3 linked regions of the Homo sapiens genome follow. The protein of the gene in region 1 purifies or fractionates together with the protein of each later gene. This does not show direct contact. Each region holds a gene or a part of one and is shown on either strand. Other genes may lie near its edges. The genes, in order: SLC25A26, MARCHF5 and OCLN.

Region 1 (3,653 bases):
CCATTCCCTCTCTCTCTCCCTTAGGCCTCTATTCTGTGAGACACAATATTGCAGTTAGGCCAATTAATAATCCTCCAGTGGCCTCTAAGTGTTGAAGTGAAAGGAAGAATCACACCTTTCTCATTTTAAATAAAAAACTCGGGCCGGGCATGGTGGCTCACACCTGTAATCCCAGGATTTTGGGGGGCCAAGGTGGCAGATGGCTTGAGCCCAAGAGTTCAAGACCAGCCTAGGCAACATGCCAAACCCTGTCTACAAAAAATACAAAAATTAGCTGGCCATGTTGGTGTGTGCCTGTAGTCCCAGCTACTTGGGAAGCTGAGGTGGGAGGGTCACCTGAGCTCAGCAGGTAGAGGTTGCTGTGGGCCACGATCGTGCCACTGCACTCCAGCCTGGGTAACAGCAAGACCCTATCTCAAAAAAAAAAATTAATTAATTAAAAATAAAAGCTGGAGATGATTAAATTTAGTGAGGAAGGCATGTGGAAAGCTGAGATAGGCCAGAATCTAGGCCTCTTGTGACAGTTAACCAAATTGTAAATGCAAAGGAAAAGTTCTTGAAGGAAATGAAAAGTGCTATCCAGTGAATACACAAATGATAAGTGTAACAGCCTCATTGCACATACGAAGAAAGTTTGGTCTGGATAGAAGATCAGACCGGCCACAACATCCCCTTAAGCCAAAACCTAATCCAGAGCAAGGCATTAACTCTCTTCCCTGAAGGCTGAGAGAGGTGAGGAAGCTGCAGGGTTTGAAGTTAGGAGAGGTTGATTCATGAAGTTTAAGGAAAGAAGTCATCTCTGTAACACAGAAGTGTAAGGTGAAGTGGCAAGTGCTGATGGAGAAGCTGCAGCAAGTTACCCAGATCTAGCTAAGATCATCGATGAAGGCACTAACACTAAACAACAGATTTTCAGGGTAGATGAAACAGCCTTCGATTAGAAGAAGATGCCATCTAGGACTTTCCTAGCTAGAGAGGAGACATCAATGCCTGGCCTCAAAGCTTCAAAGGACTGGCTGACTCTCTTGTTAGGGGCTAATGCAGCTGGTATCTTTAAGTTGAAGCCAATGCTCATTGACTCTTCTGAAAATCCTAGAGCCTTTAAGAATGGTGCTAAATCGACTCTGCCTCTGCTGTAGAAATGGAACAACAAAGCCTGAGCGACAGCACATCTCTTTACAGCATGCTTTCTTGAATATTTTAAGCCCACTGCTGGGACCTAGTGCTCAGAGGAAAAGATTCCTTTTAAAATATTTCCGCTCATTGACAGTGTACCTGGTCACCCTGGAGTTCTGCTGGAGATGAATGTTGTTCTCATGCCTACTATCAACATCCATTCCTTAGCCTGTGGATCAAGGAGTTACTTTAACTTTCAGGTTTTATTAAATTTCATAAGGCTACAGCTGCATCAACAGTGATTCCTTTGCTAGATGTGGGCAAAGTAAATTGGAAGCCTTCTAGAAAGGAGTCACCATTCTAGATACCAGTAAGAACATTAGTGGCTTCATAGGAGGTCAAAATATTGACCATGCTGGGACTTTGGAAGAAGTTGATTCCAATCCTCATGGCTGACTAGTGGAGGGAAACACATACTAGATGTACTGGAAATGGCAAGACCACCGTAGTCAGAAGTGGAGCCTGAAGATGTAAAGAATTGCCACAATCTCATGATCAAACTTGAACGGATGAGGAGTTGGTTCTTATGGGTGAGCAAAGAAAGTGATCTATTGAGATGAATCTACTCCTGGTGAAGATACGGTGAACACTGTTGAAATTACAATAAACGATTTAGAATATTTCATCAATTTAGTTGAGAAAACAGTGGCAGAGTTGAGACGGTTGACTCCAATTTTGAAAGAGGTCCTACTGTGGGCAAAATGTATTGTGTGCTACAGAGAAATCTTTCATGAAAAGAAGAGTCCATCAATGCAACAATTACTATTTTTAGAAATTTCCACAGCCACTCCAACCTTCAGCAGCCACTACCCTGGTCAGTTAGCAGCCATCATTCAAAGCAAGACCCTCTATCAGCCAGAAGATTACAATTTACTGCAGGCTCAGATGCTCATGAGCATTTTTTAGCAATAAAGCATTTTAAAATTAAGGTATGTACAATTTTTAGACATAATTGCTACTGCATACTTAATAGACTGTAGTAGAAACATAACTTTTCTGTGCCCTGGGAAACGAAGAAATTTGAATGGCTTGCTTTATTGCAATATTCACTATTATGGTGGCCAAACTTGGCCTGGGACCAAACTTGAAATATCTCTGAGTCATGCCTGTACTCTTGGTGAAAAGGTTCAAAGGTTATGGAAGCGTGGGCCAGGAATGTGTCCTATAATCCACAGGCAGCAGGCATTCAGTTTAGGGCTTAAGACACATCCCTGGCTTGCCTTTTAGATATGGAATCATAGTCCTTGGACTTAGTTTTTTAAACCTGTTTTGTAATTTTTTTATGTTGGCATCTGTAGATTTCCTCATCTTTATCAGCTACATAATCATCCACTGTATGTTTATACTGTGCCATAACTTATATCACCATCAGCAATGCCACAATGAAAATTTTTGAACAAATATCTGAGTAGGTATGGGGAGGGGGGGCAGTTTTAAAGAATGAATCCCCAATTTGTATCCTCGTGGCATTGTAGTTTTACTTTGCATTGCTCTGATTATTCTACATTGCACCTTGGCTGGTTAGCAGCACCTTCTGTGATACCAAGGGGACTGTGCAGGTGGAGGCATGCTGCCCCCTTCACAGCCACAGCCCATTTGCCTTTCATGCCTTTAGACAGAAAAGGAACACAGGGAATCCATGGAGGTTCAACTCGTTGTCGTGACGTCATGTTTTGGGGTCTCGAAGGACAAAATGCAACTGAGTCAGTGGGTGGAGCGGCAGCATTGCCCAAAAATCTCTTCACTGAGCAACCCCTGGAGATCACTTTAGAGGTGTGGGCTGGAAGTGCCTTCCAGCCTTACCTAGGATTCAGCTCTTTAACACCTTTTTAAAAAAAATCAATTTCATGTTTCAAAGGGAAAAATGGCATGAAAGTTTTAGAACTACTGTTGGGACACAGCTATTACTTGCCTTATTTGGGAGCGTTCACAAGCTGTTTGGTAGTTAGCCACTAATGAGCATGGTGTATTGAGCTGAGCAAGCTGTGGGTATTGGAATTTAACCTTTTTTTAAAATACGCACAACATTAAAAATCCTGTTTTTTCCCCTAGATTATTTGCAGGTGTCTTCCCTCGAATGGCAGCCATCAGTCTGGGAGGTTTCATCTTTCTGGGGGCTTATGACCGAACGCACAGCTTGCTGTTGGAAGTTGGCAGAAAGAGTCCTTGAAGCAGAGACAAGCCTCACCTCCACTTCTGTCAAGAGAGGGGCCTGCAGTGCAAACCCTCTTCCGCTGAGCAGCTGTCTGAACTATAGGCCCCAGTGCTGAAGACCAGTTGTGCTAAGATACCGGCATGGAGATTGTGCCATCCGTGGTATAGGCTGGCTGGTATGAAGTCATTGGCCTGTATGCCAGAGAGCTAAGAGAAGAAAACGGGGTCTGTGGCGGTACTCTGAACAATTTCCTCAGAACCTCTTAATAAATAAGTTTGGTAATGCTGAGGCCAGGCCTTTTAGAGCTTTCATTTGATCTGTA
Region 2 (3,653 bases), on another chromosome or scaffold:
CCCAAATTTATCCATTTGCCTGTGTATTAACTGTCTGTTTGATAGAAAGGAGAAAGAACTTGCATACCTGTGTGGATATAATTGAATAACAAAGCTCTAATAAAAAGCTGACTTTTAAAAAAAAAACTAACTTAGCTTAATTATCTGGAGACGGTGTAAGAGAAAGAAAGCAGTAGTATGTTCTAATACTTCTCCTTAATTCTTCCTTTTAAGGAATAAAAGTAGAGAAATTAAATATTTAATAAGATGTGACGTTAAACTCATCTTTGGAATCCAATTTATGTGGTTTCTTTCATGAACCCTGCTATCCCTTTTCTGTGAAGTGGCAGGTAAGAAATAACCAAAGATCTTTGAGAACAGGCCTAGCATGGAAAAAAAGTATAGCAGACTGCTTACAAGAAGCATTCTAAGGCTGCTTCTTTAGCAGCAGTATAACTAAGGCTGATATTTAGTGAGCCTGTTCCATTACAGCCATACAGTTATAAATTGGTGTCAATCTCTTGGTTTGGTGTTTATACCATGCCAGTTGTTAAACATTTTTTTATAACCCTTGACTGTAACCAAGAGGTATAGGAAGGCAGCTTGGGTTCTGGGAAGGTCATAAGGAAAGAATGTCTTTGGGGGCAGAGGGAATTCAGGAAAAATTGGAAATAATTATTATATATATTGTTTTTTATAAGTGCTATTCATACTGAAATCAGACCAATGTTTTTGAAAATGTGGCAACATAAATGCAGATAATGAAGTGCTTTTCTAATATGAGAAGATTAATAATAAGGGCAAACAAAATGTCCTTGGTTCTCTGTTTTTCTCTAACATGCACAGGAAGAAATGATAGCTTCCTTTGAAGGGGAAGTAGTGTAGTAGAGAAAGTAGTGTTTTCAAACATTTGGAATTTGTGGACCATGTGATGGGTCTTCAGTGCATACCACTGATTTTAGATAAACACAAAAGAATAATTCAAAATGTTTTTATTGTAAGATCAAAGAAGTATTTTTAAATCAGTATCAGGAAAAGCAATGATTGTTCACATTATTGTACCACCACATGAATGGTGAAAGACTCACTAAAGTCCAAGTTAAGGTTTCATATTTAACTGATTTCTTTTCTTGCTCTTAGTTGTACTAAATTAGATAGCCCCACCTTTGAATTATAGAGTTGGGAAGAGCAACAATTAAATATTTCTATTAGATGTTTTAGATATTCAAATGGACACAAAAATTATTACAAGAATTCTCACTGAAAACTACATCAAGTTGACAAGTGTATGGCACTCGAAAGCAAAGTTGAGTATTTTAATTTTGGAGATGGCAATGTGTAGATCTGTCCTTTTGGTTGAATTCAGTTCTAGGAAATATGTTTTCAGGTTTAGTGCAGTAATTGAATATGGTTTTAAGTCTACCTAGTTGTTAGAAAAGAGTAAATCTTGGCTGGGCGTGGCGGCTCACGCCTGTAATCCCAGCACTTTGGGAGGCAGAGGCGGGCAGATCACGAGGTCAGGAGTTCGAGACCAACCCGGCCAATATGGTGAAACTATGTCTTTACTAAAAATACAAAAGTTAGCTGGACATGGTGGCGTGTGCCTGTAGTCCCAGCTACTCAGGAGGCTGAGGCAGAAGAGTTGCTTGAACCCAGGAGGCAAAGGTTGCAGTGAGCCAAGATCGTGCCACTGCACACAAGCCTGGGCGACAGAGCCGAGACTCCATCTCAAAGAAAAAAGAAAAGAGTAAAACTCTTTGGTTAAGCCATTTGTATCATTATTTAGTCTGCATATTTTGTTACTAAGAATTGTGGCCGGGCCGGGCGCGGTGGCTCACACCTGTAATCCCAGCACTTTGGGAGGCCAAGGCTGGCAGATCACGAGGTCAGGAGATCGAGACCATCCTGGCTAACACAGTGAAACCCCATCTCTACTAAAAATACAAAAAAATTAGCCAGCCTTGGTGGCAGGTGCCTCTAGTTCCAGCTACTCGGGAGGCTGAGGCAGGAGAATGGCGTAAACCCGGGAGGCAGAGCTTGCAGTGAGCCAAGATAGCGCCACAGCACTCCAGCCTGGGAGATAGAGCGAGACGCCGTGCTAAAAAAAAAAATTGTGGCGGGTCACAGTGGCTCACACCTGTAATCCCAACACTTTGGGAAGCTGGGGCGAGTAGATTGCTTGAGACCAGCCTGGGCAACAGGGTGAAACTCCATCTCTACCAAAAATAACAAAAAAAAATTAGCTGGGCATGGTGGCACACACCTGTAGTCCCAGCTACTCAGGAGGCTGAGGTGGGAGGATTGCCTTAGCCTGTGAGGTGGAGGCCACAGTGAGCTGTGATTGCGCCACTGTACTCCAGCTTGGGAGACAGAGTGAGACCCTGTCTGAACAACAAAAAAGAATTGTGGCCAGTCATGGTAGCTCACATCTGTAATCCCAGCACTTTTGAGGCTCAGGTGGGTGGATTGCTTGTGGTTACGAGGTCAGGATCAGCCTAGGCAACATAGCAAAACCTTGTCTCTCTACAAAAAAGAAAAAGAAAAAGAAAAAAAATTAGCCAAGTGTGATGGAGCACACCTGTTGTAAGTCCTAGCTACTCGGGAGGCTCAGCTGGGAGGATCACTTGAGCCCAGGAGTTTGGGGCTGCATTGAGCTATGATTGCGCCACTACCCTCTAGCCTGGGTGACAGAGTGAAACCAATCTTAAATAAAAGAGAGAATTATAATTTTACTCTCAAATGATATGTTCAAGCTGGTCACTATACTGTCTGTCATAGAGGTATGGCACTTGAGTTAGCCGCTTAAAATCATAGATATGTTTTAATGACATCAGTGTTATAAAAAAAAATGAATATCCGCTGGGCACGGTGGCTCACGCCTGTAATCCCAACACTGGGAGGCCAAGGCAGGCGGATCACCTGATATCAGGAGTTCAAGACCAGCTTGGCCAACATGGTGAAACCTTGTGTCTACTAAAAATACAAAAATTAGCCAGGCGTGGTGGCAGGCGCCTGTAATCCCAGCTACTTGGGAGGCTGAGGTAGGACAATCACGTGAACCTGGGAGGCAGAGGTTGCTGTGAGCCAAGCTCACACCATTGCACTCCAGCCTGGGCGACAGAGCAAGACTCTGTCTCAAAAAAAGAAAAAAAAAAGTATATCCTTCATTTGAGTAGGTATTGTTAGCATATTTCCTCTTGACAAAACAGAAAAACAGAGTATTTGCTGCTGCTGCTTCCCCCCGCCCCCCCCCGCCAATAGAGGTTGGGTCTTGCTATGTTGTCCAGGCTTGTCTCAAACTCCTGGGCTCAAGCAATCCACCTACCTTGGCCTCCCAAAGTGCTAGGATCACAGGCATGAGCCACTGTGTGCCCAGCCTGCCGCTGCATTCTTAACATGCTGAAGATACCTATTCAAGGGCTGCAATTTTAATTATATTCACAATTTTCCATGCAGTTATTAACAATGACTCAAGCCAGCTGTTGTCTGTAAATGAAGCCATGTGTGAATTGGCTTTCAGGTGGTGGGCTCTTCATTGCTGCACACAAAGCTAGTGCTCTAGCTATGCTGATTCCAGCACAACTTTTCAATTCAAGTTTCAAAAATAATTGTTGGTTAAAAGAAAATATCTTCTTCTAAAACTTTTAAAAAGTTGCTTGTATTTCTTGATTAAC
Region 3 (3,653 bases), on another chromosome or scaffold:
GTATAATAGTTAATAATTACAAAGCACTATTCTGTTTTTTTTTTTTTTTTGAGGTGGAGTCTCGTTCTGTTGCCCAGGCTGGAGTGCAGTGGCGTGATCTCAGCTCACTGCAAGCTCTGCCTCCCGGGTTCACGCCATTCTCCTGACTCAGCCTCCCAAGTAGCTGGGATTACAGGTGCCTGCCACCACGCCCGGCTAATTTTTTGTATTTTTTTTTTTTAGTAGAGACGGGGTTTCACCATGTTAGCCAGGATGGTCTCGATCTCCTGACCTCGTGATCTGCCCGTCTTAGCCTCCCAAAGTGCTGGGATTACAGGCGTGAGCCACCGCGCCCAGCCCCTACAAAGCACTATTCTATGTACATCTATCCTTTCCTATTTAAAATAAAATAGCCAGGCTGGGCATGGTGGCTCATGGCTATAATCCCCACACTTTGGGAGGCCAAGGCAAGTGGATCACCTGAGGTCAGGAGTTAGAGAATAGCGTGCCTAACATGGTGAAACCCCATCTCTACTAAAAATACAAAAAATAGCAGGGCATGGTGGCAGACACCTGTAATCCCAGCTACTCGGGGAGGCTGAGACAGGAGAATTGCTTGAACCTGGGATGGGGGAGGTTGCAGTGAGCCAAGATTGCGCCATTGCACTCCAGCCTGGGCGACAGAGTGAGACTCCATCTCAAAAATTAATAATAATAATAATAAAATAGCCTTATTATCTTTCCTATTTATAAAGCCATTCATTCTTTCTGTAGAAAAGAACTTAAGCGGCCGGGCACGGTGGCTAATGCCTGTAATCCCAGCACTTTGGGAGGCCGAGGTGGGCGGATCATGAGGTCAGGAGATCGAGACCATCCTGGCTAACACAGTGAAACCCCGTCTCTACTAAAAAAAAAAAAAAAATACAAAAAATTAGCCAGGTATGGTGGCGGGTACTTGTAGTCTCAGCTACTTGGGAGGCTGAGGCAGGAGAATGGTGTGAACCCAGGAGGCGGAGCTTGCAGTGAGCCAAGATCGCGCCACTGCACTCCAGCCTGAGTGACAGAGTGAGACTCCATCTCAAAAAAAAAAAAAAAAAAAAAAAGAACTTAAGTAACACAGAACTGTATACAGAAAAAGAAATCATCTTAAATCCTACCATCAAGAAATCCTTATCACCAAAATATTAGTTAAAACAATCTCTCCAAGCAGGAGTCACCAAGGCACATACACCTTTCTTTAAGGAAACATCATCTTCCATGTTTCACTTATTTTCTTCCTGTCTTTTAAATCAACAGTTTATGGGTTTTTTTTTTCCCTCCCTTGATCACCTGGCTGAGATAGAATTTGTCCATGTAAAGTTACTGGATTTTTTTTTCAATCCATCCTTTTCATACTGTATTTTGTATACATACTGAAATTAATGTAGTTACACCACCTTTTAGAGGGAGATTAATCTCTTCTTGTTTATTTGTTCCTTTATTGATCAGTCAATCACTTACGTAAGTATGGACTTTACAGATACCTGTTTTATACTGTGAATTATAATCCAAGGCTGCTTTATTTTGTAGCTCTAATTGTTCTCGCTTTGACGGTTGGGAACTTTCAGTTGCTTCCCGTGTCCCTTTGACATACTCTTATTGTGGGGTTTTATCTTTAAAAAAAAAACAAACAAAAAAACTTCCTTGCACTGCTTATTTCTGGCTTTTCTTAACAGCAAGTTTTTTTTTTTATATCAATAATAAAGACCTACTTACTTTTAAGTTTTTTATGTGTAAAATTAGGTAAACAACTTTCAAATTTATGGTTGTATCATAATTTAAGAGTCATTTTCTATGGATAGACATTTAAGTATGTCTCCCCCTACTCCAGTAGTACCAGTATATACTGGTGAACCTCTCTGTTTTTGCACTCTTGTCTACTTATCTAATTTTTTTTTTTTTTTTTTTTTGAGACGGAGTCTTGCTCTGTCGCCCAGGCTGGAGTGCAGTGGCGCTATCTTGGCTCACTGCAACCTTCGCCTCCTAGGTTCAAGTGATTCTCCCGCCTCAGCCTCCCGAGTAGCTGGGATTACAGGCATGTGGCACCACACCTGACTAATTTTTGTATTTTTAGTAGAGACGGGGTTTTGCCATGTTGGTCAGGCTAGCCTCGAACTCCTGACCTCAGGTGATCTGCCTGCCTTGGCCTCCCAAAGTGCTGGAATTACGTGTGTGAGCCACAGTGCCCAGCCTGCTTATCTAACTAAAACTAATTCCAGAATGTGAAATTGCTGAGAGTCAGAGGGTACGTACCTTTGCAAAGTTGCAAAATTGCCCTCCAGAGAGACTGCACCAACTGTGTCTCCCTCTTGATACAATACAGGACTCATTTGATGCACATCTCATTAAATATTCTGCCATTTTTCAGTTGAGGTGATCTACTTTTTAGTTTTGACGTATTCACATCTTTATATAGTTAGATTTATGTATTTCTTTTATGGTTTCTATAGGGTGTTATAGATCTTTCTTAATTTAGTGAACATTTATTGATCACTTATTTTTCTTTGATGATGTGGAAATGCTGGAGCTAGAGACATAAAATCTTGTCCCCACCCTAAAAGAGCTTATATTTTAAGAAAAAAAACCTGACATCTAAACAATTTAGACAGTATGATTAATGCTGTATTTGCATCATGTGTAGAAAGCACTATAACTAACTGCTCATAGAAGAAATAAAGTCTTTGGAGGCTTCACAGTGAGGGAATCGTTAAGAGCTTTCCAGACAGAAGGGTGCGGGGAGGTGCATGATTACAGCCATAAGGAAAACATGATTGAAATCCTGAAGCATTTAACATGTCTCAGTTTTTAAAGGAGTTGCTGATGATGGGTACTGAGACTGGAAAGGTAGGAAACTGGATGAGGGGAGAAGTTAATGGGAAGCTCAGACCAGTTGTGTAGTGGGATATTACCTGATCAGCGAGCGCTCTGTGTTATAAAAGATCTTCCTGGTGTCAATGTAGCATGGGGACTGGCATGAGGAGAGATGAGAAGTAGCAGAACAGATAGTTACCTGCCTATGTGAGTGAAATGTGAAAGATACAGTATCATAAATGTCTCTTCACTGAATTCCTTCAGACCTTCCTGCTGATCATGAGTTTTAAGAGCTTTACGACTTCATTCTTTTAATTGCTTATATTTTTGTCATAAGCTGTCATTTTTAGCTCCAAAGTATAACATCAGGAATGTTACTTTTAAAAGAGAAAATGCCCCAGTAAACATATTCCTTTGTGTCTGTCGTTAATAGGCTGCTGCTGATGAATACAATAGACTGAAGCAAGTGAAGGGAGTAAGTATCCGAGATTGTTCTTTTAGGAAGAACTTTCTTTCTTCTTCTTTTTATTTTAATTCCCATACCTACTCATCTGGAGGAAGAGCTTTTCTATTACATGTTTTTCATTTTTTATTTTATATATTTTTTAAAAGTTGAAGTATACATACAGAAAAGTGTATAAATCAAAGTGTATAACATGGTGAATTTTCACAATGTGACCACATACCTGCGTATGCAGATCAAGAAATATATTTCCCAGTACCTCCCCACCCCCAGCACCCCCACCCTCACTTGTACTACTTTCCAGTGTTTACACTCTCTCCAGAGGGGTCCATCATGCTCACTTCTAACATCATAGAGTTTT

Evidence for each region.
Region 2: the proteins of SLC25A26 (region 1) and MARCHF5 purify together in Homo sapiens (affinity purification with western blotting; one study listed by BioGRID). This does not show direct contact.
Region 3: the proteins of SLC25A26 (region 1) and OCLN purify together in Homo sapiens (affinity purification with mass spectrometry; one large-scale study listed by BioGRID and IntAct). This does not show direct contact.

The regions. Positions count from the first base shown.
Region 1 is NC_000003.12:66,374,462-66,378,114, forward strand, and holds part of SLC25A26 (mitochondrial S-adenosylmethionine carrier protein), read left to right. Parts: intron 1-3,228; coding exon 3,229-3,346; 3' UTR 3,347-3,653. UniProt on the Homo sapiens protein: Mitochondrial S-adenosyl-L-methionine/S-adenosyl-L-homocysteine antiporter.
Region 2 is NC_000010.11:92,311,526-92,315,178, forward strand, and holds part of MARCHF5 (E3 ubiquitin-protein ligase MARCHF5), read left to right. Parts: intron 1-3,653. UniProt on the Homo sapiens protein: Mitochondrial E3 ubiquitin-protein ligase that plays a crucial role in the control of mitochondrial morphology by acting as a positive regulator of mitochondrial fission and as an important regulator of immune response.
Region 3 is NC_000005.10:69,548,282-69,551,934, forward strand, and holds part of OCLN (occludin), read left to right. Parts: intron 1-3,262; coding exon 3,263-3,304; intron 3,305-3,653. UniProt on the Homo sapiens protein: May play a role in the formation and regulation of the tight junction (TJ) paracellular permeability barrier.